4 linked regions of the Homo sapiens genome follow. The protein of the gene in region 3 interacts with the protein of the main gene of each other region in a pairwise test. Each region holds a gene or a part of one and is shown on either strand. Other genes may lie near its edges. The genes, in order: PRPF6, GOPC, MRPL1 and VPS52.

Evidence for each region.
Region 1: the proteins of MRPL1 (region 3) and PRPF6 interact in a two-hybrid assay, tested with the Homo sapiens proteins (one large-scale study listed by BioGRID).
Region 2: the proteins of MRPL1 (region 3) and GOPC interact in binary tests that used the Homo sapiens proteins (3 or more experiments, as listed by UniProt).
Region 4: the proteins of MRPL1 (region 3) and VPS52 interact in binary tests that used the Homo sapiens proteins (3 or more experiments, as listed by UniProt).

The regions. Positions count from the first base shown.
Region 1 is NC_000020.11:64,000,128-64,008,019, reverse strand, and holds part of PRPF6 (pre-mRNA-processing factor 6), read right to left. Parts: intron 6,944-7,892; coding exon 6,781-6,943; intron 1-6,780. UniProt on the Homo sapiens protein: Involved in pre-mRNA splicing as component of the U4/U6-U5 tri-snRNP complex, one of the building blocks of the spliceosome.
Region 2 is NC_000006.12:117,560,506-117,567,268, forward strand, and holds part of GOPC (Golgi-associated PDZ and coiled-coil motif-containing protein), read right to left. Parts: intron 6,530-6,763; coding exon 6,349-6,529; intron 2,880-6,348; coding exon 2,749-2,879; 3' UTR 1-2,748.
Region 3 is NC_000004.12:77,881,456-77,889,347, forward strand, and holds part of MRPL1 (large ribosomal subunit protein uL1m precursor), read left to right. Parts: intron 1-1,786; coding exon 1,787-2,045; intron 2,046-3,800; coding exon 3,801-3,884; intron 3,885-5,764; coding exon 5,765-5,836; intron 5,837-7,892.
Region 4 is NC_000006.12:33,261,877-33,269,137, forward strand, and holds part of VPS52 (vacuolar protein sorting-associated protein 52 homolog), read right to left. Parts: coding exon 7,138-7,261; intron 6,774-7,137; coding exon 6,623-6,773; intron 6,333-6,622; coding exon 6,232-6,332; intron 6,122-6,231; coding exon 5,989-6,121; intron 5,864-5,988; coding exon 5,806-5,863; intron 5,446-5,805; coding exon 5,312-5,445; intron 5,198-5,311; coding exon of another isoform or gene 5,132-5,197; exon of another isoform or gene 4,856-5,131; intron 4,837-4,855; coding exon 4,681-4,836; intron 3,025-4,680; coding exon 2,906-3,024; intron 2,622-2,905; coding exon 2,498-2,621; intron 2,228-2,497; coding exon 2,132-2,227; intron 2,004-2,131; coding exon 1,896-2,003; intron 1,674-1,895; coding exon 1,608-1,673; intron 1-1,607. UniProt on the Homo sapiens protein: Acts as a component of the GARP complex that is involved in retrograde transport from early and late endosomes to the trans-Golgi network (TGN).

The sequences.
Region 1 (7,892 bases), on a different chromosome or scaffold from region 3:
AGATCACCTGAGGTCAGGAGTTCGAGACCAGCGTGGCCAACACAGTGAAACCTTGTCTCTACTAAAAATACAAAAATTAGCCAGGTATGGTGGCATGCACCTGTAATCCCAGCTACTGGGGAGGCTGAGGCAGGAGAATCGCTTGAACCCAGAAGGCGCAGGTGCAATAAGCTGAGACTGTGACACTGCACTCTAGCCTGGGTGACAGAGAGAGACTCCAACTCAAAAAAAAGAAAAAGAAATTAGGCCAGGCAGCTGATTGTGGTGGTTCACACCTATAATCCCAGCATTTTGGGAGGCTGAGGTGGGAGGATCGCTTGAGCCCAGGAATTCGAGACTAGCCTGGACAACATGGCGAAACCCTGTCTCTACAAAAAATACAAAAATTAGCTGGGCGTGGTGGCATGTACTTGTGGTTCCAGCTAGCTGGGAGGCAGAGGTGGGAGAATCGCTTGAGCCCAGGAGGTGGAGGTTGCAGTGAGCCAAAACTGCACCACTGAACTCCAGCTCCAGCCTAGGCAAAAGAGGGAGACTCAGTCTCAAAAAAAAAAAAAAGAGGAAAAGGGCAGGGCAGGGGAGGGGAGGCGGGGAGGGAAGCGGAGGCGGGGAGGGGAAGAGGGGACGGGAGGCAGAGGGGAGGGGAGGCGGGGAGGGGAGAGGGCAAGTGAGCTAGCTCTCCTGCAGGTACCTGCTCTCCTGCTGAGAAACAGCCCCAGGCTGGCTGTGAGGCCCTGGCAGGGAATGAACACTCAGCTAAGGGACATAAAATGACTGAGCAACCTGCTGCCCACTCCAGGTGTTACTGACAGACCAAGCCACAAGGTTGGGCAGATGCAGCAGTGGCCTCATAGGGTGGAAATGGCACCCAGGAGATGGTGTGGAAGGAAGGCAGGTGCAGCACAGCTGCCTAAGCTATGGGGCAGATGCCTCCTGCACTGGTGGCTGCTCAACCGCTTTCCTCCCTCAGCCCACACTGACAACCTCTGGGGAGTCCCTTAGGGTCAAGGGACTGAGAAGACAAAAGTCTGCTGTGGTTTACGCATGGTTCTGCACAGCACACTGGCACTGACACCCCTGGCCTTATTATCTGGATGTCCACTTGACCAACTGAAAGACGGCCAGAAGACGAAGCTATATGAATTCACCGATTCAGGCAGAACATGGTCTTACCATGTGCCCATCACTCAGAGCCATGGCCTGGCAGCCCAGTAGGATGCCACAAATGCTGTGAATAGACACCAATCCCGGCTGGATCTCACAGCCAGAACACACGGGTCTAGGAATAAACAGTGATGTCTGAATGGCTCAAGTCCCATCTCCGCTGCCACAAGTCCCGTCTCCACTGCCAAGAGTCCCGTCTCCGCCTCCTTGGACCCTCCTGTCAAGAGAGCTGGTCCAAAGGCCGGGTGTGGTGGCTCACATTTGTAATCCCAGCACTTTGGGAAGCTGAAGCGGGTGGATCATGAGGTCAGGAGTTCGAGACCAGCCTGGCCAACACAGTGAAACCAAACCCCATCTCTATTAAAAATACAAAAATTAGTCGGGTGTGGTGGCAGGTGCCTGTAATCCCATCTACTTGGGAGGCTGAGGCAAGAGAATTCCTTGAACCCAGGAGGCGGAGGTTGCAGTGAGCCGAGATTGCGCCACTGCACTCTAGCCTGGGCAACAGAGCAAGACTCAGTCTCAAAAAAAAAAAAAAAAAAGAGCAAGCTACGAGCTACTCCAAAGGGAGTATGTGCCAACCAGGGTGCAGACCACAGCTCCCTCTGGCCTCCTCATGTACCAGCCCTGGCTGGAGAGGCTAACCCTGACTCCCAAAGCGAGACTGAGTTGCTGCCACCCACTGTGGGAGACTATCTAGAGGCCAGTCCTAAAAACAGTTTAGTATTTCTGCTTTTACCAGTAAAAGTTAATGGGAACTACAGCCACCAAAAAAGCAAAACTACCAACAAGTCAGACCCTTTGGGGATAAAGATATGGGTCCTGGCTGAGCACAGTGGCCCCCATCTGCAGTCCCAGCATTTTGGGAGACTGAGGTGGGAGGATCACTTGAGCCCAGGAGTTTAAAACCAGCCTGGATGACACAGGGAGACCTCGTCTCTTTGAAAAATTAAAAACTCAGCCAGGCATGGTGGTATGTCCCTGGAGTCCCAGCTATTCAGGAAGCTGAGACTGGAGGATAGTTTGAGTCTGGGAGGTTGAGGCTTCAGTGACCCATGATCATGCCACTGCACTCCAGCCTAGGCAACAGAGCAAGATCCTGTCTCAAAATAAAAATTATTTAGGCATGGTAGTATGTACCTATGGTCCCAGCTACTCAAGAGCCAGAAGCAGGAGGATCACTACAGCCCAGGAGGTTGAGGCTGCAGTGAGCTGATTGCAACACTGCTCTCCAGCCTGGGCAATAGGACGAGGCTCTGTCTAAAACAAAAAAAAGATTTGGGTTACTCATCCAGGTCAAGAACCCTGACCAAGCAGGGTGACAGCAGAGGGCACAGCAGTAAAGAAGGAAAGTCCTAACCTCCAACCAGGCGACTAGGCATAGAGAGAAGACACAGAACGACCCAGTTGTTTTTCCTGTGCGCTCTCACCTCGACTGCGTGGGAGATGAGTGCTCTATTTGTCTAAATATGAACTACTTCCCTTAATACTTTGTACATTGGTGGAGATGAACTTCGCGTCTCTAAAGAACAGAATATTCATGCGGGACTCAATTTATGGAGTCATTAACTTACGACTCCCAGGACTCTGTGTCTTCAAGTTTTGGGAGAGAGCTGACATATCTCCATGGCATCTCATCAGCAGCCCACAGGCATGGCACTAAAACCAACAAGGTCACCTTCCCCAGGTGCTTTCGGAAGCCACATGGCACACCATGATACAATGGCCTTCAAGGAGTGTGACTTTATGAGCAGAAGTGGAGGAAGCACACACCCCTGAAGTTGGCCTAGAACAGAAGAGTATTCTGAATGCTAGACACAGCCATGAAGACGTGACCGTGCAGAGGCCAACATGCTCTCCGGGGGTCACGTGACTGCAGGGAAGACCCTCAACCTGAACTGTGCCATTCCTGTGCCCCCAGAGGGACACGCTGGCGACGGCCACTGAAGGATGCCACGCTTCACAGGCCAGAGCATATGGCGTTAGTGTAAAATAACTCCACTTCCACACATCTGCATTAACTAGCGGAGTACACAGCATGTGAGTGCATTATTGTAGGGGAGCTGCCAGTCGGGCCTCCCCAGGGGACTCTGCACGTGGGACACCCCACCCTGGCCAGGAAGCTCACATGCTGCACCCTCCCCAATCCTGAAAGCCCTCTTCCCTTTTACAGAGGAAGACATGGAAGCTCAGAGGCCAAGCACCATGCCTAAGGTTACTCAGCCTCCTCAGGTCTCAAGATCAGCACCCAAAACGCCCATTCTCCCAACAAAGGACTAAGGTGTCAGCTCAGCCCAACAGCGACCCAGAGCTCACAGAGACCATGCACTGCCAGGCTCCCTGGCTGGCAGGTGTCCTAAGTCACCAGTGGAAGTAGCTGTCATCTTAATTTCAAAAACCAGACCCTTCAAGCAACGTGTAAGTGTTTGCTAATAACCAAATGAAGCAGTGCTGGGCTTCACCCCAGGAAAAGAATACAGTTTTTGGAAACACTCTTGGGAAAGGGCAGGCCAGGACCAGTATTAGGGCAGCGGCAAAGGCCATCCTGGAGATCCTGGGTTCATTCCACCTTAGCCCAGCTTCTCTGCCTGAGAGAGCACAGCCAGGAGGCCACTCCCTGAGAGAACAGCCGTGGAAACACAGTCCCTCAACACTCCCCGAAGGCCCCCGCCTCCAACAGCATACTCCCATCTCCAAATCCAAACCAACTGGAAATGAACCCAGACAATCTGGTGGTGAGCAGGGAGTGGCCACAAAGACATTCATGATCATTCATCAAACTGTGGCAGGAAGAATTCAATAGAGCTTTTCTAAGTAAACAATACTAATTACCCAGACTTTCATGGGCTCTTCATCAAAGAACTATTTCTTCCTAGCTGAAAAAAGATAAACTGATTTCTACAAACCCAGACAGGTGCTAACTTTCTGTTCCTGGCCACCTCATTATAAGACGCTGTCTCTGGCCGGGCGCGGTGGCTCACGCCTGTAATCCCAGCACTTTGAGAGGCCGAGGCGGGTGGATCATGAGGTCAGGAGATCAAGACCATCCTGGCTAACATGGTGAAACCCCATCTCTAATAAAAATACAAAAAAAAATTAGCCAGGCCTGGTGGCGGGCGCCTGTAGTCCCAGCTACTTGGGGGGCTGAGGCAGGAGAATGGCGTGAACCTGGGAGGCGGAGCTTGCAGAGAGCCGAGGTCGTGCCACTGCACTCCAGGCTGGGCGACAGAGCGAGACTCTGTCTCAATAAAAAAAAATAAAAGAGGCTGTCTCTGAGCATTCACTGAGCAGCTGGGCTGCGGTCAAGAAACCAGCCTCGACAGAGGAAAGCACGTTCACATGTGAGTGCACAGGGTCGGGGGAACATGCATCACAGGCAAGCAGCCTTCACCTGTCTTCTAACAGACGTAGACAGTAAGTGAATGAAACTATATTTGATAAGGGGCTTTCTACCAAAGAGCCCTCATCTGCACGGTCCTATCAGCACAGAAGCCTCAATGGGATATTTCGCTTAAAGACATTTGGAAAAACAAGAGCTGGAAAGCTCTCACTGAAAACTGCCCTTGATTCCATAAAATACACTTTATTTTTCCTAGGCTATAAATTCAGGAAGAATAGGCTGGATGCGACGGCTGATGCCTGTAATCCCAGCTCTCTGGGAGATCAAGGCAGGAGGATCACTTGAGGATGGGAGTTTGAGACAAGCTTGGACAACACAGCAAGATCCCATCTCTACCAAAAATTAAAAATAGCTGGGCATGGGGGTGGGACCTATACTCCCAGCTACTTGGGAGGCTAAGCTGGGAGGATCGCCTGAGCCTGGGAGGTGGTGGCTGCAGTGAGCCAAGATCGTGCCACTGCACTCCAGCCTGGGTGACAGAGCAAGACGCTGTCTCAAAAAAAAAAAAAAAATCTGGCCGGGCACAGTGGCTCACGCCTGTAATCCCAGCACTTTGGGAGGTCGAGGTGGGTGGATCACTTGAGGTGAGAAGTTCAAGACCAGCCTGGTCAACACAGTGAAACCCCGTCTCTACTAAAAATACAAAAATTAAGCAGGCGTGGTGGCAGGTGCCTGTAGTCCCAGCTCCTCAGAAGGCTGAGGCAAGAGGATTGCTTAAACCCAGGAGGCGGAGGTTGCAGTGAGCCAAGATGGTGCCATTGCACTCCAGCCTGGGGGACAAAGTGAGACTCCATCTCAAAAAAAAAAAAAAAAGAAAAGAAAAGGCCAGGCACAGGGGCTCACGCCTGTAATCCCTGCACTTTGGGAGGCCAAGGCAGGAGGATCACTTGTGGTCAGGAGTTTGAGACCAGCCCGGCCAACATGGGGAAACCCCATCTCTACTAAAAATACAAAAATTGGCCAGGCATGGAGGCGCACACCTGTAATCCCGGCTACTCGGGAGGCTGAGGCAGGAGAATCACTTGAACCCGGGAGGCAGAGGCTGCAGTGAGCCAAGATCGTGCCCCTGTACTCCAGCCTGGGCGACAAAGCGAGACTCTGTCTAAAAAAAAAAAAATGGATAGAAGCCACCTGCATAGGCCAGGTGCAGTGGCTCACGCCTGGAATCCCAGCACTTTGGGAGGCCGAGGCAGGCAGATCACAAGGCCAAGAGATCGAGACCATCCTGGATAACACAGTGAAACCCCATCTCTACTAAAAATACAAAAAGAAATTAGCCAGGCGTGGTGGCAGGCGCCTGTAGTCCCAGCTACTCAGGAGGCTGAGGCAGGAGAATGGTGTGAACCCGGGAGGCGGAGCTTGCAGTGAGCCGAGATCACGCCACTGCACTCCAGCCTGGGCGACAGGGCGAGACTCCATCTCAAAAAAAAAAAAAAAAAAAAAACCAGAAAAAAAAAACAAAAAATGAAAAAAAAGAAGCCACCTGCACAGATTAGCTTCAGAACAGCCCCCTGACTAGCACTCGTTCTGGACCCAGTTCAAGAGCAGCATCTACTACACACTTCCAGTGACAGGAGAAACAGTGCTCCTTTTATGAATCCACAGTAATAAAAATAAACAAACTACCCACAAAAGCTCTACCCTGGCAGGAATCCCTGGATGGAATCAGGTTGCCTGGTAGGCACACCGTCTGTCGTTATCTGACCTGAGCTGACGGCACACGCTGCATCGCGGGAGCAGAAGGCACAGCCTCGTCAGCAGCAGGAAAGAGTTCAATCAACGTGTGGCTCTGGTGCCTTCTCAGGAGAGAAAATGAGTAACACCCACAACGGGTCTGCACGTGCCAGGTGCCGGCTCAGCTCTTCACACAGACCATCTCCAGAGCCCCAGGACACAGGCTTTGAGCTACCGTTGTTCTCACCCTGCAGATGAGGGAAGCCTGGACCAGAGTGACCGCCCAAGCATCCAAGATCACACACTGGAAAAAGGCAGGAGTGAGGGCTCAACCCAAGCATCCCTTCCAGGATGGGAACTTGCCCACCACAGTATCCCTCCCCCATGGGGGTCCAAGGGCAGAGGCAACCCAGCCTGAGAAAAGGCCTGAAAAATGTCCCTGGTTCCTTATCCACTCTCACCAAAAGCCTGAGCCAGGAGCAGGAAAGCTGCTGAGAGGAGGGGCCCCAAGGAGGGAGAAAGCAGCACCTCCGAGGGAGGCTCACCTTTCCGAAGAACCCGCTTCTTTGCACGAATGTCCGTTTCCAGCTCTGCGGCTCTGATGTAAATCCTGACAGACTGTGGGAGATGACGGACAGCTTGGGCTACCACGGCCTTGGCTGTGTCCCCAGGCTGCAACCTGGCTGCTTCCAGCCAGACATCTTCACTCTGTGAGGCAAGAGATAAGACCAATAAGGCTCAGTGCAGGCTGGAAGCCGCAACAGGGCAGCAGGCACAGATCTCCAGAGCAGATCCTCGGGCCCCAGAATTTACGAAAGCCAATTAGCTCAGCCTCTAACACACCTGCACCAGGAGTCGCCCCCTTATAACCACACTTGGGAACATGGCTACCATATGTCTGACTGAAGAACACCTAATGGCCGGGCGCGGTGGCTCACGCCTGTAATCCCAGCCCTTTGGGAGGCCGAGGCAGGTGGATCATGAGGTCAGGAGTTTGAGACCAGCCTGGCCAACATGGCAAAACCCTGTCTCTACTAAAACTACAAAAATTAGCCGGGTGTGGTGGCAGGTGCCTATAATCCCAGGTACTCAGGAGGCTGAGGCAGGAGAATTGCTTGAACCCGGGAGGCAGAGGTTGCAGTGAGCTGAGATCACGCCACTGTACTTCAGCCTGGGCAACAGAGCGAGACTCAAAAAAAAAGAAAAAAAAAAAATGAAACACCACTTTGTGAAAAGAGCATGATTTCCTTCAGGACAACTCCATGGACAAAGCAGAGACTGCACATCTGCTCGGGTCGTTCTTTTTTGTTGTTTTTTTTTTTTTTTTTGAGACGGAATCTCGCTCTGTCGCCCAGGCTGGAGCAGCATGGTGCAATCTCAGCTCACTGCAACCTCCACCTACCGAATAGCTGGGATTATGGGCACCTGTCACGACGCCTGGCTAACTTTCATATTTTTAGTAGAGACGGGGTTTCGCCATGTTGGCCAGGCTGGTTTCTAACTCCTGACCTCAAGTGATCCACCCGCCTCAGCCTCCCAAAGTGCTGGGATTACAGGCGTGAGCCACCGTGACTGGCCACCATTAGGCGGGTGAAGAGCTGACCAACTGAGCTCTTTATAATGAAGCTTAGCCTGCCGTCAAACCAGTGGTGGATTC
Region 2 (6,763 bases), on a different chromosome or scaffold from region 3:
AAACCTTTTTGTTTCTAAACATGAAAACAGCATAAGTCCACTGCAGTGGGGAAAAAAACAGCACCACAGACAAGCTGTGCTAACTTTCGATAGCTGTTGACTTGTAATTATCAAGACTCACAAAATTTTCGTCTTTCTCAAATTTATTTTAACAATAGTCTCACCACCAAAATGTTGCTTTTCCATCATATTCATAACAGAGATACTGTAGAAGAGAATTTTAGAGGTTAAGTGTAAATATATACACGCACACATACAACCCTCACATTTTATTAAAACGTTTTCTCAACCATTCTGTTTGTGTATACATGTGTGTATTTCTCCTTCTGTCCCCTTCTCGATGAAATGGCTTTGCAACAGTTCCCTCCTTACTTGTTTGGTTTTGTCCTAGAAGTTTCAGGGACATATGAATTTCTTTCCTATAAATGTGAAAATATTAAAATTGGTTCTCAGTCCTTTGGAACTAATAACTAATTCTTAGTTCATCCCCAAAAACCATACATTCTAAAATGAACTTTTAACTAGTTACTTTCTAACACCGGACAGGAAGCTCACAGTAGCATCTGAGCAACGGTGCTCTCCCGTAGGCTTATAAACCACAGTGAAGCAGGAATGAAAAGGAAACTGACCTGTGGAGTTTTAAACTACCTGGAAACTTTTCATTCTATTTATCAGTCCTTAAAAGGAATTTATATCATGACAATCTCACACAATTCTTCAAATTACACAGTGACCTCATAAAAATTCCAACTTGAAGTTTTAAAAAACCACCTCTTCATACACTTATTCGGTAGTTCTTGAAAATCAAAGGGTTATAGCTTACATTTCCTAAGGATTCAGTCATAGCAGATAAAGGATGTTCTCTGAAAAAAATGCCATGGCCATTCCATCCCAGGCTGTGTTTTAAGAAGATAAGAATAACATGGTTTCATGTCACAGCAAAAAGGTTTTCGGGTCTGCTACAATGGACAATTTTTTTGACTAAATAAATACGGTGGCTAAAATCCAGTTTGCAGATCTCATGTCATGCATGGAAGGTATGTGTTTGGCATAGGGGATTCATAAAGAAAAAACAAGTTGTTTTTTTTCTTTTAAGAGGCCTACCCTGTCAAGAGCAAACAATAACATGTAACTTGCTTATTCATTTGTACAATTAAATACTAGCTTTTGCTCAGAGACAATGCTATAAAGTATTTTAATGTCAGTAACAATATACACTACGAAGTGCACTTCCATTACAAATTAACATGGTGATATACAGATGAACACCACCACCCAAAACAAACCATAAATGAGCAACAGTTAAAACATTAAATTTATAAATAGCAAAACCACAAAATAAAGTATATACATTTTATAGATTTACCCTTGAACAAATATATAGTGTATCTGGGAAAGCCAAAAAAAATGTGTTTTATCACATAACATCTGAATACCAGAAATGAAGATACTGATAATATTCTAAAAGCCTTGTAGGCTTTCTCCCACTTAATATTCCTTTAACTGTACGTCCTTTAAAACAGTGATATTAGCAAAGCTATCACCTCTTTAATGCAATGTTGTGACTTTGCCTAGCAGGTTACAATGACCTGCAGAATATTAAATCAGAGAGGAGGCACTCCATGTTTAATCATGGGACAACAGACCTAACAAATTTATAAACCTGCATATGAAGAGAGCTTTAGTCAAACATAAACTGACATGAAAACCCAACCAAAACAATTACTGTATCAAAATGTCTTTATCTCATCTTGCCCACCTTTTAGATGACTGGAAATCATTTACTTAGAAAGAAAACTGCCGTTTGATTTGAATGTACTGTGTTTCATGACATAGTAATAAATCTGAACTTTTACTACCAGAAAAATTTGTCTTTAAGTGCCAGGACTATCACAAGACAAACTTTATGAACAACTCAAAATGTATAAAACTGTCTTTTGTGGACCCCAGAAAACAAGCATTTGAGGCTCAACATGAATGGGTAAATGCTCCAGTACTGCGCACACAGATCAACATAATTGAGAACAGATGTTTTACACTCATCTGCATTTCTTTTAAAAAACAAAAAAAGTAAAATGTTTAGTAACTTTTGAGAATCTATTTCTAGTGCAGCATTGATTGATAAAAGACTGCTTAAAGAAAACTATTTTGTACTGCATTGAATAAAGCTGAAATGCAAACTCATTACAATAAATGATCATTAATAATTGGTTTAGATTTTAGGATGCACAATAAATTTTTTTAAGTCTAAAGCCTTTCAGTTACAAAAATTAAGTCAAGCCTATATTTCTACAATTCATTGAGTCAAGCTCTGTCTTCTGAAATACCACAGTTAACATTCTAGAATATAAAATATGAATTCACTTACTCTCTGTATTTTAAAGGGTACTCCTTATAAAATTCCAGTTAGCACTGTCCTCCTACTAAAGGGAAAAGGAACCAAGTAAAACAGTAGGGTTTCATTTGGTACTTAAGAGCCCAGTAATACCCCTTTGGGAAACACATGCTTTGGTGCTTACAAGTTCAAGAAAATCAAAATTGCTTTACATGCAATAGCTAATTATGGTCTACCACAGAAAACAGGGTGTTTTATGCATTGAGAATTGTTCACATGAAGCCCTGAGGTACCCGCCTTTCATTTAGGCAACAAACAGCCTCCCCTGATTTTGTAGTCTTTGTCACCATCTTCCCCAGTGCCCCAAATTCAGAATAGTCTGATTAACAATCTTGTCTGGAGATATGGTCAATTTAATAAGATTTTTTATGATACAGAGTGTGCAGATCATCTAATTTTGAAGCACCGTCATCTAGCGGAGTTTCACTTGCAGTGCCCAGGTCTCCATTTTCATGTGTGTCAGTTACTGCCTTCTTATTAAATCCTGAAAGAAAGGAGAAAAAAAAAGCAGACACTTTCTGGTTTAAAAAGTTGGTTTTGGTCAGGTGCAGTGGCTCATACCTGTAATCCCAGCACTTTGAGAGGCCAAGGTGGGTGGATAACCTGAGGTTAGGGGTTCGAGACCAGCCTGGACAATGTGGTGAAACCCCGTCTCTATTAAAAATACAAAAATTCGCCGGGCATGGTGGCACATGCCTGTAATCCCAGCTATTTGGGAGACTGAGGAAGGAGAATCACTTGAAGCCAGGAAGTGGAGGTTGCAGTGAGCTGAGATCGTACCACCGCACTCTAGCCTGGGTGACAGAGTGAAACTCTGTCTCGATTAAAAAAATTAAAAAAAAAAAAAAAGTTAGTTGTATAAGTTTATTGAGTGAAAAACAAAGGAATGCCCAAGTAATTAACATTAGTAATCTGAGGCAAAAATAATGCCTTATATTAATCAAATCAGTAATTCCTAACAGGGGAATTCTTCCCTCTTATGGCAGGTATCAAATATTGTACAGATTTAAAAATACTATATTGGGCTTATGTAAAAATTGTATTAAGTTTCCTATCAAGTTTTCCTTTCCTTTTTTTTTTTTCTTTTTTTTTTCTGAGACAGGGTCTCACTCTATTGCCCAGGCTGGATTGCAGTGGCATGATTACGGCTCACTGCTGCCTTGACCTCCTAGGCTCAAGCAATCCTTCCACCTCAGCCTCCTGAGTAGCTGGAGCTACAAGCATGTGCCACCATGTCCAGCTATATTTTAAAAATTTTTTTGAAGAGACAGGGTTCACTATGTTGCCCAGGTTGGTAACTCCTGGCCTCAAGCGATCCTCCTGCCTTGGCCTCCCAAAGTGCTTGAATTACAGGCATGAGCCACCATCAAGCTGTCTGTAAGACTTAGAAGTAATACATATAATTGTAAAATTCAGTCAATTCTACTTATATAAATATCTACTGAACTGTGAATTATATTTTTATTTTTCATTGTTGCTTTCATATTACATTAACTTCAGTTAACTGAGGCATATACTAGTTAATTGCTTAAAATGTAATTTGTTGGCAAGATGATGTCTAGCTAAAACTTAAAACGAATTCTGATCATCTATAAAATAAATAATAGGCTTATAAATAAATAAGTGTTGACTATATCACCTATTTAGGTGATATATATATCTATAAAGTATAGACGTGTGAAACAATAACCAATAGATACATTTTTTTAAGTGAGTCAGTTAAAAGATATATACACACAAATTTTTAGTTGAGTCACATTTTAAGTGTCTGCAATTTGCATATGTGACAGAGAAGACTTCTAGCCTCAGTTACAAAAAAAAGGAAGAGACAGGCTTTCTAATCCCGACAGAAAACAGCAAGTGTGAAATACAATGAAACCATATGGAGAGCAGCCCAACAATTAAGGTTTTGACATACTGCCACAATAGTTTTGCTCAAGATGCACAGTGAAAACAGTAACTGCTACTGCTATCTTTGTGCAGACAGTTTACAACACACAAGTTTATCAAAAGTGCAACAGTTTATCAGTTCACCATAAAACTCCATGCCAGGAGTTCAACATTTTGGTCTCAGGAGGCCTTTATACTAAGCATTGAGGACTCCAAGAAGCTTCTGTTTATGTGGATTATAGCTACTGATGTTTCCCATATTAGTAGGTAAAATTGAAAAATCTAAAAAAAAATTCATTTCTTTGTTAAAAATGACAATAAATCCAGAAGGTTAATATAAATAACATTTGTCTAATGACAAATAACTCTATGTTCCAAACAAAAAAATTCTAGTTAGAAGAGTAGCATTATTTTACAATTTTACAAATCTCTTCAATGGCTTTGTAGATGATAGCTGTATTTTCATATATCTGCTTCCATTCAATCTATTACAAGTATATGAAGAAAGTTCAGCCTCACACAGATATGTAGTTGCTAAATGGAAGAGTATTTTAACAGCCTTTTCAGATAACTGTCAGTATTGTTCTCTGATATTATACAAAAATTTGACAATGTGGAATTTGAAACCTTATCAGTGAACTTTTCACACTCTGTTATATTAAAATCCATTTGCCTATCTTGCATTTTGAATGGATCTTTTCCCATGCAAAATTTTATAACTTCATTTACTGGTGATTTGAAAAATATTGGACCATGAAGTTATGTAGCAATTCCAAAAGTTGACACATTTCACTTTACTGTATCAAAAAATCACATTCATTAATATCATCATCAATCTCATCAGAAAAGCTTAAGTGTTAGGAAGCTGTCAAGCTCATGGTGATCAACGTATGTTTTACAAAGTTCTAACTTTCACTTGAGAGCTCACATTTTATCACTGGCAATAAATATTATCAGTTGTCTTTCCTGAAGTGATGGACTTTGTTCATTTTTAAGAAAATGGCTTCCAAATAGTCCGAAAATCCATACTTTGTTAGTCATTCATTCAAGTAAAAATTGTCTTCCATGAAGAAAAATGGCTAGTTCAGTCACTTATGTACTTTCCCTTGAAACCAGCATCTTTGTTCAGTGTGCAGAGTAAGTGCTTTATGCATACTTCCCATCTCATCACAAAGAATATTAAAAAGACAGGTACTCAAAGGTCAATATTTAAAAATTAACTGTTACTGCCATTTCATCAAAGATATTTTTAAGCAAAATTGGTATCTTCTTCTTTTACTATGAATGGATGGCAAGGAAGAAAACAATGATTACTAGTACAGTTACTAGTATTAGCAACACTGCCTTGATTAGTGCTAAGGCACCAGCAGTTTTACCCCAATTGCTTTTGCATCAACCAGATACCATCAGTGCAAATATCAACATAGCAAAAAAAGACAAATGATGTCTTAGTATTATTATGAAAAGCTTTGACCTCATGAACTCTGCTAAAATATCTCAGAGACCCTCAGAGATCCACAGATCACAATTTGAGGACCACTGCTCTATGTAAAAGGAAGTGCTAGAGTTTTTCCTTAAAATATGTCTAAATGATAGCAAAGGAACTAAACCAAACATCCCCAAGATAATATAAGTTGATTCTAATAGCAATCATAAGGTGACAGTATACTTCATACTTATTCATAATTAGCTTAAAATTCATTGTGAGAGATGAATTTGCATCAAGACAGACAGACAATGTAGTCTACAAGATAGATCTACTCAAAATAGTATATTGGTCTTTGTTTCAGAGTCTAGAAAAAATTTTATTTATTTTTCAAGGATCACTTGCAGTAGAGTAACTGGTAATGTACTTGTCTTAACAGTCCAAGATGAATATAGAAGAACATATATGGTAAATAAACTGTTAGCATAGTATACAATAAAACAATAAACAAGGGAAAGCTCTTCATTCCTTTGATTTCCTCACAAAACAGTTTTACTGAAGAAATTCTGAGGCCTTCACATTTTAAACATTTAATAATAATGAATATGTTAATAATAATTTTTAGAGTGATTTTTACCTTGTAATACTTTGATTTCCCCACTTGTGTCTTTGCAACTAGCACCAGGGTTACCACCTCCTTCTAACTCATCAAGGTACAAACGGTAACGATGTCCACTCTCATCTTCATACTCTACGTTTTCATCATCAGAATCCACTTCAGGAGCCACATAAACTACTTCAAATTCAATCTCTCCTCTCTAAAACAGGAAATGAAAATGAGAAAGTCAAGTTATTGTAATTGTAATTTAAAAAGGATTTCCAAATTCTTTGTGGGAAGGCTTAGGGGTAGAGAGATCTAAGAGATAGCTGATTTCCAGAAAATAAATAATAAAATTCTAGAATCTAAAGAGGTAGTGAGGCCATCATGTCTGATCAGCCTCGTGAATCCTCTCTACAGTTCCTTTAAACATTATAGTAGCTCTTTCTACTGA
Region 3 (7,892 bases):
TTTTTTTGAGACAGGGTCTCACTCTGTCACCTACCTGGAGTGCACTGACATAATCAGCTCACTGCAGTCTCAGACTCCTGAGCTCAGGTGATCCTTCCAAATCAGCCTCCTAAGTAGCTGGGACCACAGGTGTGTACCACTATGCCCAGCTAATTTTTTTGATTTGGTAGAGGCAGGGTCTTGCTATATTGCCCAGGCTGGTCTTGAACTCCTGGCCTCAAACAGTCCTCCTGCCTTGGCCTCCCAAAGTGCTGGAATTGCAGGCGTGAGCCCTCGTGCTTGGCCCAGTATTTAGCTTGACAAGTATTCTCTAATCTGCCATCTTTTCCAGTCTTATTACTGTTGCTACTCTGGTTCAGGTTCTCATATCTCTGAGAAGAAAGGGCGGGAACAGACTCTTAATTGTTTTCAATCCTACTTCCTTCAGGTCTCTCTCTTATATTGCAGCCAGAATACCTTGCCTAAAATACAGATGTTACTCCTGTTTACTGACTTCTTATTGCCTCTAGAGGATGCCCCCCTATGCTCTGTCTTTTCTAACCTCATCTTCCACTCTTGCCTGCCTTCTCTTTTACCGTTTTAGTTCAGAAGTCAGCAAACTTTGGCGAGTCAGCCAATCTTGTTTACCGACTATATTTGCACTACAGTGGCAGCGTTGAGTCATTGCAGCAGAGAACATATGGCTCACAAAGCTAAAACATTTACTATCTGGTCCTTTACAGAAAAAGTTTGCCAACTCTGCTCTAGTCATGTAGAACTTATAATAGCTTCCTTCTTATACCATTTTATTTTGTGCCTCAGTACTTTTTATTACGTTGTTTCTTTACCTGGCTAACTCTATTATTTTTTAAATAATGGCTTTATTAAGGTATCATATAATTACATATCACACAATTCACCCATTTAAAGTGTACAGTTCATTGGTTGTTAGTATACTCACAGTTGTGCAGCCATCACTGTAATCAGTTTTAGAGCATTTTCATTGCTTTCCCAGAGAACCCCATGCCCATGAGCATTCACTTCTTGTTCCCCTAACCTCCTCTTCTAGCACTAGACAACCACCAGATCTACTTTTTAGTCTCTTAGGTTTGCTCATTCTTGATATTTGGTATAAATGGAATAATATGTGGGCTTTTGTGACTGGCTTCTTTCACTTAGCTTAATGTTTTTAGGGTTCATGCGTGTTGTAGCATTGATCAATATTTCATTCTTTTATTAATTGTTGATTAATATTCCATTATATGGACATACCACATTTTATGTATCCATTCATCAGTTGATAGACATTTGGGTTGTTTCTACTTTTTGGCTGTTATGAATAATGCTGCTAAGAACATTTGTGTACTAGATTTTGTGTCATATGTTTTCACTTCTTTGGGGTGCTAACACTTCCTTATCCATTAAGAATTGACTTTGAGGTCATTTCCTCTATAACTTTTCCCTAGCCTCCTAGGCTGGATTGAATGTCTTTTCTGTCAGGCTCTGATGATGCTCTTGTATTACTACATTATATTGAAATGACCTGTTAGTATGTCTTTCTGATCTACTCCTCTGTAAGTTTCTGGAGAGCAGCATCAGTGCGGTAATTCAACTTATTCATGACTTCAGACATTGGAAAAGTTCACTTCATGTTTGTTGAATTAGAAAAACTGTAAAGCAGTCTATGCTTTTGAATTAAAATATAATTCATCCTTTGTTTTTTTTTCTCTTATGTACACTGGCTTTTTTTTTAAAAAAAATCTCTTAGGATATATATTGATATAACTCAACTTTATTTTCTTTTAAGGTCTGCAAAGAAAACAAAAAAAGGTGCTAAAGAAAAAACACCAGATGAGAAAAAAGATGAAATAGAAAAAATAAAAGCATATCCCTATATGGAAGGCGAACCTGAGGATGATGTCTATTTAAAACGCTTATACCCGAGACAGATATATGAGGTGGAGAAAGCTGTTCACTTACTTAAGAAATTTCAAATTCTTGACTTTACTAGTCCAAAGCAAAGTGTTTATCTTGATTTGACACTGGATATGGCACTGGGAAAGAAGGTATGTAGAGTCCATTAAAATAAGTTTACCTGTGAACAGTGGCTGTATGAATTGGTGTTTCTTTATTTTATTTTATTGTTATTATTATTTTTGAGACAGGGTCTTCTTGCCGTGTTGCCCAGGCTGGAGTGCGGTGGTATGATCTCAGCTCACTGCAGACTCCACCTCCCGGGCTCAGGTGATCCTGCCACCTCAGCTTCCTGAGTAGCTGGGACTACAGGTGTGTTCTACCACGCCCAGCTAATTTTTGTACTTTTAGTACAGATGAGGTTTCCCCATTTTGCCCAGGCTGGTTTTGAACTCTGGGGCTCAAGCACTCTGCGCTCCTTGGCCTCCCAAAGTGCTGGGATTACATGCATGAGCCACTGTGCCTGGCCTCTTAATTTTAAAAATTATTGCCTCTCATAATTTTTAGAAAACTTCATGCTCTTTCTGTACTTTAGCATGAAAAATATGTTTGTTCATTTAAAAATTTTCCAAATATAAAATTTGTTGAAAACACTCTAGAGAGTTAACATAGATTTCCTATTTCCTCTAAGAGAGTCACTAGTATAAATTTCAACAAAAGTAGTGTTAAAATTAACGGAGGTATCACTGTAACTTTGAAAAGTGATTTAAACTGCCTAGGTGGCATGTTTCTTCTCTGTAAATGAGGGCTCTGGATTAGCTCAGTGTCCTTCAGATGTGTTCCTTGGGGTCGCACCACTGCACTCCAGCCTGGGCGACAGAGCAAGACTCCATCTCAAAAAAAAAAAAAAAAGAGAATTTGTCTCTCCTTGTCTATAAAGAAATCCCGAGGAGGATGTTTCTACTCAAAATAAGGTTTTTCTAAAAATATTGATCCTTCAATCAGTTTTATTAGGGGAACAACCACCTTTTCTTCCAAACCTTAAGGCTGCAACAAAACTTTGGAGGGCCTAGAACTTGTTTCTCTGTAAAATCTCCCTGAGAGATCTAGGCCTCAGGCCTCAATAGTTCCTGGTCAAAATGACTAGACAGATTAGTTTAGTGGTCCTGTAAAATCTCCACCTGTATTAGCGTGCCTCAAATGCATGCCATTGTTTATTTAGGATTTTCCAATTGACTTTCTAAATAAATCTGAAAGTGATGATGGTCTAGGTTGTTTCAAAAATAGAGTCACTCAGAAGATCCCTTTAGGCTCGACATTTTGTCTTGGGTTTAGGGTTTACAATTCCTGATAGTTTAGAGCCAATGATGGCAATTGGGGGTGACCTACTGGGCAGATCAGCTGGATATTGTCTATTGTTCAGCATGTACAGCTGTAGTCATGTCTCCCTGATGGTGTCAGAAGATTACATGGGTTTAAAACAAATTTAATTGAAGATAGCAAACATTTATTATACATCAGATGGAAAGCATTGTACTAGTGCTGGGGAAGATGTTGATATGCAAACACATTTCATAATATTTGAGAGACTGTGATGAATGATGTAGAGATAGAAGCCAAGTGGCATGGGATTATGAAGCTGGAAAAAGAGATTTTAGTTTTTTATTCTCAAAAAAATATAATCTTGAAAAAGTTTCTTGAAAAAAAAATAATCTGTTGTGCTTTAAATTGTAATCGATGAATAGTAATTCATGAATAGTAATCAATGAATAGTTCTGAATTAATGGAAGAACATAGAGTAGAATCAGAACACTGAAAACAAAACATGTCCGTTCTTGTTTTATATAGAGTGTGTGAAATAGAAAAGATTAACTTTACGTAATTATTTTTCCTTGTCATGTGTTTAGAAAAACGTGGAGCCATTTACCAGTGTTCTTAGTTTGCCATACCCATTTGCTTCCGAAATCAATAAAGTTGCTGTATTTACAGAGGTGAGTAACTTCCGTCAACTATTTATATCATTTAATTTTTTTTTTTGAGACGGAGTCTCACTCTGTCACCAGTCTGGAGTGCAGTGGGGCAACCTCGGCTCACTGCAACCTCCGCCTCCCAGGTTCAAGCGATTCTCCTGCCTCAGCCTCCCAAGTAGCTGGGACTACAGGTGTGCACCACCACGCCCAGCTAATTTTTGTATTTTTAGTAGAGACAGGTTTTCACCATGTTGGCCGGGGTAGTCTTGATCTCTTGACCTTGTGATCCGCCCGCCTCGGCCTCCCAAAGTGCTGGGATTACAGGTGTGAGCCACCATGTCCAGCCTCATCATTTAATTTTTTTTAGAGATCACAAATTAATCATTAATTATTAACCAATCATTAGCACCCTGAATAAATGGAGTTAGAGAAAATCCTAGCATTCACCTAGTCTTATTTTCCCCATTTGGAGCTCAAAACATTTAGATGATTTATTTGAGGTTATATTATTAGCTTGAGAAAGAGCTAAATTAGAACATTAGTTTCATCATTACTAGAATGCTACATTGTGTTTCTCACAAGAAACTGAAAAGTGGAATTTATCAATTTATCCTATTAACTGCTGCTTTCTGTTCAAACTTCTCTCCCCAGACAACAAGATTATTTTAAAGCAATGGAACCATTTAGTACTGTGGTGCCTTAGAAACCACAACTTTCAAAAGTATCTAGTCTTTATAAAACTGTCCTAAATAAATGTTTGTTTATAATGTGTTTATGATTTTTTTTTAATCATCCACAAACTATAATGGTTCTGAATGTAATATCCCTGATGCATTTAATTGAAAATTCATGCATTCAGTTCTTTTTTGAGACAGGGTCTTGGTCTGTTGTCCAGGCTGGAGTACAGTGGTGCAGTCATACTCACTATAGCCTCGGACTCCTGGGCTGAAGCGATTCTCCTGCCTCAGCCTACTGAGTAGCTGGAACTGCGGGTGCTAGCCACTATATGGCAGGCTAATTTTTTTTTTTCTTTGAGATGGAGTCTTGCTCTTGTTGCCCAGGCTGGAATGCAATGGCGTGATCTTGGCTTACCGCAACCTCTGCCTCCTGGGTTCAAGTGATTCTCTTGCCTCAGCCTCCCGAGTAGCTGCGATTACAGGCATGCACCACCACACCTGGCTAATTTTGTATTTTTAGTAGAGACGGGGTTTCTCCACGTTGGTCAGGCTGGTCTCGAGCTCCTGACCTTAGGTGACTGCCTGCCTTGGCCTCTCAAAGTGCTGAGATTACAGGCGTGAGCCACCATACCCAGCCTGGCAGGCTAATTTTTAATATTTTTTTGTAGAGATCGGGGATCTCACTTTGTTGCCCAGGCTGGTCTAGAACTCCTGGCTTCAAGTGATCCTCTTGACTCAGCCTGCCAAAATGTTGGGATTACAGGTGTGGCTCACTGCACCTGGTTTGCATTTTCTTTTTTTTTTTTTTTTTTTTTGAGATGGAGTCTCACTCTGCCACCCAGGCTGGAGTGCAGTGGTGTGATCTCAGCTTACTGCATCCTCCCCCTCCTGGGTTCAAGGATTCTTCTGCCTCAGCCTCCTGAGTAGCTGGGACTTACAGGTGTGTGCCACCACGTCCGGCCAATTTTTATATTTTTAGTAGAGACAGTTTTGCCATGTTGGCCAGGCTAGTCTTGAACTCCTGACCTCGGGAACTATCCGCCTCAGCCTCCCAAACTTCTGGGATTACCAGTGAGAGCCACTGCATCCAGCCACATTTTCAATTAAAAATAAAAGCTACAATTTGTACTTTGAACTGTGATATTATTTCTGACAACATACTTCAAAGCAGACTGAATATATTTAAAATTAATGATTGATTTTCAAATTATTGTGTTTTGGTAGAATGCATCAGAGGTCAAAATAGCGGAAGAAAATGGAGCTGCATTTGCAGGAGGCACTAGTCTGATACAGAAGGTACAGTGTTGTTTTCATGTTCATTAAGTATAGAGATGATTCTGTTATCTTTACCATTCATTGATCTGTTATATGTGGAACACTAGTCTCATATCTTATGATAAATAGTTAATAGGTCTTTATAAGAGCAGGAAAAAAATTTCCAACTTTCTTCAGTTTCAAAATCAAGCTAGGAGAAAACTATCCAGACAGTCTGATTTTGTGTGTTTGTGTTTATTTGGGGTGTGTGTGTGTGTGTGTTTGTCTGTGTTTGAGACAAGGTCTCTCTCTGTTGTCCAGACTAGAAGATGGTGGTGCAATTATGGCTCACTGCAGCCTTGAACTCCTGAGCTCAAGCAATCCTCCTGCCTCAGCCTTCTGAGTAGCTGGGACTAAAGGTGCATGCCACTGCACTCGGCTAATTTTTTTGTAGAGATAGGGTTCTTGTTTGTTGCCCAGGCTGGTCTTGAACTCTTGGCATCAAGCAATCCTCCTGCCTTGGCCTCCCAAAGTACTGGGGTTACAGGTGTGAGCCACCACACCCAACCTCAGACAGTCTGATATTGATTATACTTGAATTATTATTGTGATTATTATTATTATTACTATTTTTCGCTTCTTTTTTGTCTGAGAGTTTTGTGGATAGATAGGAAAGGGCAGTGTGACTCTGGTTTTGAATGTAAGGTTTAAAATGAAATCCACAAGGTCGCATGGATTTCATTGATACCCATGGACACCTCTATTCATGTTTTGAAGATCAAATATTTGTTTTTTTTCTTGGAGTGAAGGTGTAATTCACTTAGTAGATTATAAAGTATGGTATCTGCCCTCTATAATGTTGGTGCTTTTGGTTCCTCTTAACTTTTAGCTTCTAATCCTTTCAGAATGGCATAGACTCAGTATGGTAGCAACAAGTGATTATGTAGCCTGCCTTTAGAAGGTAACAGAGCTTCGCTGGACGCAGTGGCTCATGCCTGTAATCTCAGCACTTTGGGAGGCTGAGGTGGGCAGATCACTTGAGGCCAGGAGTTTGGGACCAGCCTGGCCAACACGGTGAATCCCCACCTCTACTAAAAATACAAAAATTAGCCAGGCGTGGTGGCACATGCCTGTAATCCTAGCTACTTGGGAGGCTGAGGCACAAGAATCTCTTGAACCCAGGAGGCGGAGTTTGCAGTGAGCCGAGATTGCGCCTACACTCCAGCCTAGGCAACAGAGCGAGACTCTGTCTCCAAAAAAATAAATAAATAAAATAAATAAACAAACAAATAAATAAGAAAATAACAGAGCTTGGAGAGCCTCTTTGAAAATGAGAACTTTTTTTTTCCTTTTTAGGAAGTAGGAAGAAGAGGCATGGAGTTATTTCTGAAAATATAAAAGATTTTTCTTAGGGTTCTCTCTAAAAGTTCCTCCTCTAGATAAAATCCTTTATTATAAAGTTATGGAATTTTTTTTATTATACTTTAAGTTCTAGGGTAGATGTGCACAGCATGCAGGTTTGTTACGTATGTATATATGTACCATGTTGGTGTGCTGCACCCATTAACTCGTCATTTACATTAGGTATATCTCCTAATGCTATCCCTCCCCCGTCCCCTACTCCAAGACAGGGCCCGGTGTGTGATGTTCCCCACCCTGTCAATTCAACAAGAAGAGCTAACTATCCTAAATATATATGCACCCAATACAGGGGCACCCAGATTCATAAAGCAAGTCCTTAGAGACCTAGAAAGAGACTTAGACTCCCACACAATAATAATGAGAGACTTTAACACCACACTGTCAACATTAGACACATCAACGAGACAGAAAGTTAACAAGGATATCCAGGAATTGAACTCAGCTCTGCACCAAGCAGACCTAATAGACATCTACAGAACTCTCCACCCCAAATCAACAGAATATGCGTTCTTCTCAGCACCACATTGCACTTATTCCAAAATTGACCACATAGTTGGAAGTAAAGCACTCCTCAGCAAATGTAAAAGAACAGAAATTATAACAAACTGTCTCTCAGACCACAGTGCAGTGAGACTAGAACTCAGGATTAAGACACTCACTCAAAACCGCTCAACTA
Region 4 (7,261 bases), on a different chromosome or scaffold from region 3:
CTAAAAATACAAAATTAGCCAGGCATGGTGGCACATGCCTGTAATCACAGCTACTCAGGAGGCTGAGGCAGGAAAATTGCTTGAACCTGGGAGGCGGAGGTTGCGGTGAGCTGAGATCGCACCATCGCACTCCAGCCTGGACAACAAGAACAAAACTCCATCTCAAAAAAAAAAAAAAAAAAAAAAAAAGCTTCTGCACAGCTAAAGAAACAATAAAGTGAAGAGACAAAGAATATTTGCACATCCCATCTGCCAAGGGATTAATAACCAGAATATATAAGGGGCTCAAACAACTCTACATGACAGTCTAATAATCCTATTAAAAAATGGGCAAAAGATTTGAATAGATATTTTTCAAAAGAATACAAATGGCAAACAGACATATATGAAAAGGGGCTCACCATCACTATTATCAGAGAAATACAAATCAAAACTACAATGAGATCTCATCTCACTCCAGTCAGAATGGCTTTTATCCAAAAGACAGGCAATAGCAATGCTGGCAAGGATGTGGAGAAAAGGGAACCCTTATACACTGTTGGTGGGAATGTAGATTAGTACAAACACTTTGGAGAACAGTTTGAAGGTTGCTCAAAAAACTAAAAGTAGAGCTACCATATGATTCAGCAATCCCACTGCTGGGTATATACCCAAAAGAAAGGAAATCAGTACATTGAAGAGATATTTGCACTCCCATGTTTGTTGCAGTATTGTTCACAATAGCTAAGATTTGGAAGCAACCTAAGTGTCCATCAACAGATGAATGGGTAAAGAAAATGTGGGATATATACACAATGGAGTACTACTCAGCCATAAAAAAGAATGAGACTCAGTCATTTGCAACAACATGCATAGAATTGGAAATTATTATATTAAGTGAAATAAGCCAGGCACAGAAAGACAAACGTCATGTGTTCTCACTGATTCGTGGAATCTAAAAATCAAAACAATTGAACTCATGTACTCATGTACGAAGAGAGTAGAAGGATGGCTACCAGAGGCTGGGAAGGCTAGTGGAAGGCTGGGGAGAAGGTGGGGATGATTAATGGGTACAAACAAAAATAGGAAGAATAAATAAGACCTACTATTTGACAGCACAACAGGGTGACTATAGTCAATTATAACTTAATTGTACATTTTAAAATAACTTAGTGTAATCGGATTGTTTATAACACAAAGGATAAATGCTTGAGAGGATAGATAAAGAAAAAAATAAAATTCATTCTAAAAATAAAAAATTAGCTAGGCATGGTGGCTCGCACCTGTGGTCCCAGCTACCCAGGGGGCTAAGGTAGAAGGATCACTTAAGCCCAGGCTGTTGAGGCTGCAGTGAGCCATGTTCATGCCACTGCACTCCAGCCTGGGTGACAGAGTGACACTTTGCCTCAAAAAAAAAAAAAAAAAAAAACCAAAGACAAAATAAAATAAAATAGACCAATAATGACAGTATGTTGTGAATCAAGAGTTACAGTAATTCCGCATACCTGAGATCCATTATGCCACTCCCTACACACACACACACACACACACACACACACAGAGAGAGAGAGAGAGAGAGCTGAAAACAGCACAGAAGGCTGTCTCTTCCCTTTTCCCCACACCCCTACCTGTGTCCGAGCATTGAGCAGCTGCTGGAAGCTCTCAACCTCTTTGCTGTCATCTGCAGCCCGCTCCTAAGGGAAGACAAAGGGAAATGTCTAGTTTGGGGAAAGCAGTCCTTCACTTCAGGATGTCCCCTTCATTCCACACTTATTGTACTAAGCTGGACACTGTGCCAGACTCCAAGAGTAAAACACTGAACAAGACAGGCATCATCTCTGCCCTCACAGAGCTAACAGCAGTGGGGGAAACCGAATTTTCTGGGTAGGAAGGCAAGGAGAAGGAGCACCTATTACCATCAGCACACCCAGCATCATGTCATAGTTGTTGATCAGAAACACAAGCTGCTCCTTCCTTGAGGAGAACTCAGCTGCCACTCGGAGGACAAAATTCTCCACCTCCACCTGAAAAGGCAGAGAGGAAGAGGTGACACCAGAAAGCAAGGTCATCTGGGCCCCATCTGGCTCCTCCTCAGACTCCACCCACTGGAAGCAGCCCTGCTGCTGGGAAGTGTCTCCTGTCCGACCCTCACCTGCAGCTGTCCCAGCAATTGCATGGTCCGTTCATTAGGAATTGTCTGGTTGATACTGACAAGAGCGGAGGAGAACTCTGCATAGCGGCGTGTGATCTAGGAGAGAGTGGGAAGGAAAATCACACCCACCTCCTGGCCCAACCAACACAACCTCCCAACTTCCTTAGCCAACCCACCTCCATGTGATGTGACTCTACCTTCAGTCCCTCCTACCCACAGTGCACCACTCACCATGAGTTTCACCACCCTCCCAGAACACCTGCTCATAGCGTGGCCCATGACACAACTGTGACCTTGGCCAACCCCCACAATGATGCTTAGAGCCCTGCCTTTCAAGAACCCTTTGTTACCCTTGCCCTCCCTCACATAGTGGGGCCGAGTATCCAACCCCCCTAGGCGCTGGGGGTCAGTGCTTCGGACGCTCTGAACATTCATCTCCAGGATCAGTTCAAACCGTGGCCATAGCAAGGCAAGCACCTGTTCCCAGTACCTGTGGGCTTAATCAGAATCAGAGGTCAGCCAGCAAGGAATGTTGGAGGGGGATGGGAGGGAGTGGGGCATCATTCAGTTTAATGGTCAATAGCTAGTTGTGGGGGTTGGGGGGCAGTGGTTGGAGAAAGGTGAGTCAAAAAGCAGCACTACTGCCTCCGGAGCAAATGAATGGGAATAAAGGTTGATGATACCAGGTCAGTAGGAGTCTAAGGTCAGGGCAGAGTCATGCAAGACCAAGAGAGTTCGTGGCCTGTTGGGCATCAAGGACCAGAATTCAGTGACCTGTCCAGGGCAGGAACATCCCTCTTTGCTGCAATGTTACGGAACCGGAGAACAATGTGGATACAGAGAAAAACAGCAATGGCATCGTAGCAGTCAGCTAGATAAGAATCCAGGTGTTTCTGTGTGATTGGGGAACAAACAGAGGATTAAAAGAGAATGTCAGTTTGTTGTCCTCAGTGACTATGAACAAACGCATTTGTTTCTTTGGGGATGATGCACTGGACAGGACAGAAGGGAGAGACGTAAAATGGAACTGCCCCCTGCTTTCCTGTCCAGGATCTATGTTTTTGGCTTTTTTTTTGTTTTTTGAGATAGAGTTTCACTCTTGCCACCCAAGCTGGAATGCAGTGGCACAATCTCGGCTCACTGCAACCTCCGCCTGCCTCCCAGGTTCAAGCAATTCTCCTGCCTCAGCCTCCTGAGTAGCTGGAATTATAGGCGCCTGCCACCACGCCCGACTAATTTTTGTATTTTAGTAGAGATGGGGTTTCATCATGTTGGTCAAGCTGGTCTCGAACTCCTGACCTCAGGCGATCCGCCCACCTCAGCCTCCTAAAGTGCTGGGATTACAGGTGTGAGCCACTGCACCCGGTGTTTTCGGCTTTAGAGACAGGTTGTTTTGTCACCTAGGCTGGATTGTAATGGTACAATCATAGTTCACTGCAGCCTCAAACATCTGGGCTCAAGTGATGTTCCCACCTCAGCCTGCCAAGCAACTGGGACCATGGGTGTGTACCACCATGCCTGGTTAAGTTTATTTTTAAATTTTTTGTAGAGACAAGGTCTTGCCGCATTGCCCAGGCTGGTCTCGAACTCCTGGCCTCAAGCAACCTTCCTGCCTTGGTCTCCCAAAGTACTGGGATTGCAGGCATAAGCCACTGCACCTGGCCACACCAGGATCTATGATCACAAGCCTATCACAGCAGAGTTCAGGGCTGAGCTTGGGTCAGGGGTTTGAGCACCAAGATTTGGGGGACCCTCAGTTTTCACGTGCTATTGCCTGATTGTGGGTCAGCAGTAGGGGTAGTCTCAGGGACCCTACGCACTGAGGATTTCATGGGGGAGTAACACTGTGACAAGTCTAAGTAACAAGTTTTTTTTTTGAGATGGAGTCTCGCTCTGTCACCCAGGCTGGAGTGCAATGGCGCAATCTTGGCTCACTGCAATCTCCTCCTCCCAGGTTCAAGCAATCCTCCTGCCTCAGCCTCCCGAGTAGCTGGGATTACAGGCCGCGCACACCTGGCTAATTTTTGTACTGTTAGTAGAGACAGGGTTTCATCATGTTGGTCAGGCTGGTCTCAAACTCCTGACCTTGTGATCCTCCCGCCTCAGCCTCCCAAAGTGCTGGGATTACAGGCGTAAGCCACTGCACCTGGCTATTTTTTTTTTTTTTTTTTTTTGAGACAGGTCTCACTCTGGAGTGCATGGCTCACTGCAGCCTTGACCTCCTGGGCTCAAGCAATCCTTCCACCTCAGCATCTTTAGTAGCTGTGACCACAGGCACACATCAACACACACCCGGCTAATTTTTCATTTTTTGTAGAGATGAGGTTGTTGCCCAGGCTGGTCTCAAACTCCTGAGCTCAGGCAATCCTACTGCCTTGGACTCCCAAAGTGCTGGGATTATGGGTGTGCACTACCACGCCCAGCCAAGGCTTAGACATTTTAGAATGAGGCGATCCTGATTTCAGTTCTACCAGAGTCATGACCCCACTATGCTGCTGATGAAGACTGGGGACAAAGGTGTTGAATGGTACAGGAAACAGGAGTCTTACCAGGGTCATGCTGAGTGTACGGCCCATGACAGCATGGAACAGGTCGTGTGCAGCTGGGCCAGACACAACAAAAAATTCACAGATGAAAAGGTATTCGCGGCAGGAATTGTCTAGGAGGGCGTAGTGCTGGCTGCGGAAGAGGGCCTCAAATGGATACTGGGAGAGGAGGAGTAAAGAAGAAAAACAGAAGGGATGGACCCCAACACTGACTTCCCATGGATATGGCTGGAAAATCAGTAAACCTGAGTAATAAGAGCTAGGCAGACCCTTCGCATCTATCTAGGTCCGGGCTGTCTAAGAGCAAGCTGAATGGGCACTGAAAAGGTGGGGGAACATAGGGGTACAAAAAGGGCCTACACCCACCTGCTGTTGCTACTCCTGCATCCACCTCAACACCTGCCTCTGACTGTCATTCCCCTCATCCAGTCTCTCCCCTCTGCATGCCCTTAAGTCAATGGTTCCCAGCTCTTTTCACATCACAGCAGGCTGGAGTGATTGGAGAAGGCCACTCCCAAGTCTAAGGGGATTAAGACAGGGCCTGCAGGTTGGGAAGCTCTGCCCTGAGGTCTGGCCTTCCCTCCCCACCGTGCTCAGAGCCTCTTTCGTGACTGAAGCTTGTTCCTCCTCATACCCTCTGCTCTCCGCGCTGCGCTGTGTGAGGCACCAGGATGGGGGCCTCAAGTTCAGTGGGGGAGATGACAGAGCCGCGGGTTCCTAGGGTGAAAATGGTGTTCCTGCTGCGGAGCGATGGCTTTGAGAAGAATCGTAAGATGGGTCAGAGTCAGGGAAAACAATGAGACCATAACTGGGCCCAAAGACTCACTATCTGTGGGGACCCCAGACAGGCAGACGTGGCCTAGCCAGCCCTCTTTCCCAGTACTAGGGCCCCACGTGCTGACATCTGTGAATGGGCTTCAGGGTGTCTCTCCCTCCCTTGCAATCATATGCAAAACTATGTGTCAAAATAATGTGTGCATCTTTCTGGGGAGGGAGGCTATAGCTTTCATCACATTCTAAAAGGTTTCAGTCCCATAGGAAAAGGTAAGGAGCAGTGCATTGGTGGCTGGAGTCGAAAGTCCTCCCACTCTCAAGGCCTGGCATGAGGGTTCCCCAGTACTAGGATATCTTTCTTTGCTGTATCTTCCACACCCATTAGATCATCTTTCTCAGCGACTTCCTCATACTAAGGAAAGAGAAAAGAGAACTGATAACCGTCTCTTCCCACAACACAATAAAATATTCCTTGCCCAGGGATGTCCCCTCCTCCCAGTCCATGTGCCCAGGAATACCTCTCCCTCCTGACCTTACCTGCACCTTCATGAGCCGCCCCAGGTAAGAGCGGTAGTAAGACAGGTAAATCTTGCTCAGCGTCTCCACATATTCATCCCTGATCTCCTTTGCTGTTGCTCGTTCATTGCCCAGCAGAAACTGATAGAAGAACCTAGGGGGTCAGGAACATGTCAGTCTACCTGTCTCCCAAGAAACCAGATGCCCACACTAGGCCGCTCAAAAACTCAAAGGCCATCCCATGCACTTCCTTGGGGTTGTGACCTGTACTTCAGCAGGGCCGTCTGGGGGATCTGATAGTTGGTCATGGGTTTCCTGAAGGAATAAATCTTCTGGAGGATAAACTCTCGGATCTTCGTCACTGCCTAGATGTGGGGAACCAAACACAGGGCATGAAGCTGCAACCCTTTTGCTGTATGAGAGGAACTGGGGGAAGCAACAAATGGTAAACATAGGCAGAAGGGTGGTGAATATCTCTTTGGTATTTCTCAAGATTTTCAGGGAAACCCAGAGAGACAAGAATGGGGCTGCCCAGAAAAGGCAGGGTGAAGTCCCTGGAGACAGGCTACAGTGAGCTCTGCCAAGGAAATCCATAGTGAAGATCTTGGGAAGGCTGCTTCCAGTAGCCTCCAGGGTATCCATCCCTACTTCCCACCTTGACCCGGAGCCGATCGAGCACGCCTCTGACATCTGCGCAGGCTGCTGTGCCTCTAGCTTCCTGCTCTCTGACTGCGGCTGCCTTGGCATCCAGCTCCTGTAGCTGCTCCAAGAACCTGGGCTCTGTCACTGGAGCCTCCAGAATTGCCCTGGTTAGCAGGGAGGGGTGGGATGAGTTACAAGGGAGACCCAGACATCCCTAAACCAGACCCAGACCACACTCCTTACCTCCAGCCCCTGTCATCTCTACCACCTTGCATTGTACCATATAGTCAGGACACATGTACAAAGTTTTCTATTCCTGGACCTCCCCACTATACACCTGATCTTACATCATTCTTAATCTTAATCTTTGATGCCTAATGCATACCTAAAGAAATGGTGGTTAACCTGGCTACTAATTTCTAAAAAGCACTTAACCTGGAGCCAGGAGACCCATATGGTAAATAGGGTGGGTCACCCCAGCCCATCCACCTGCTATGGACATTATAACCCTTCAAACTGGTAACTCACGTGACCAGAGCAGAAGGCACCACCAGACCATCAACAAGCTCCCCAAGTTTCCCCCGAACTGCCTGGCGATTTCGAAGTCGAATGTTCATGGCTCCTGACTGTTCCTGCAGTGTCCGGATCTCAG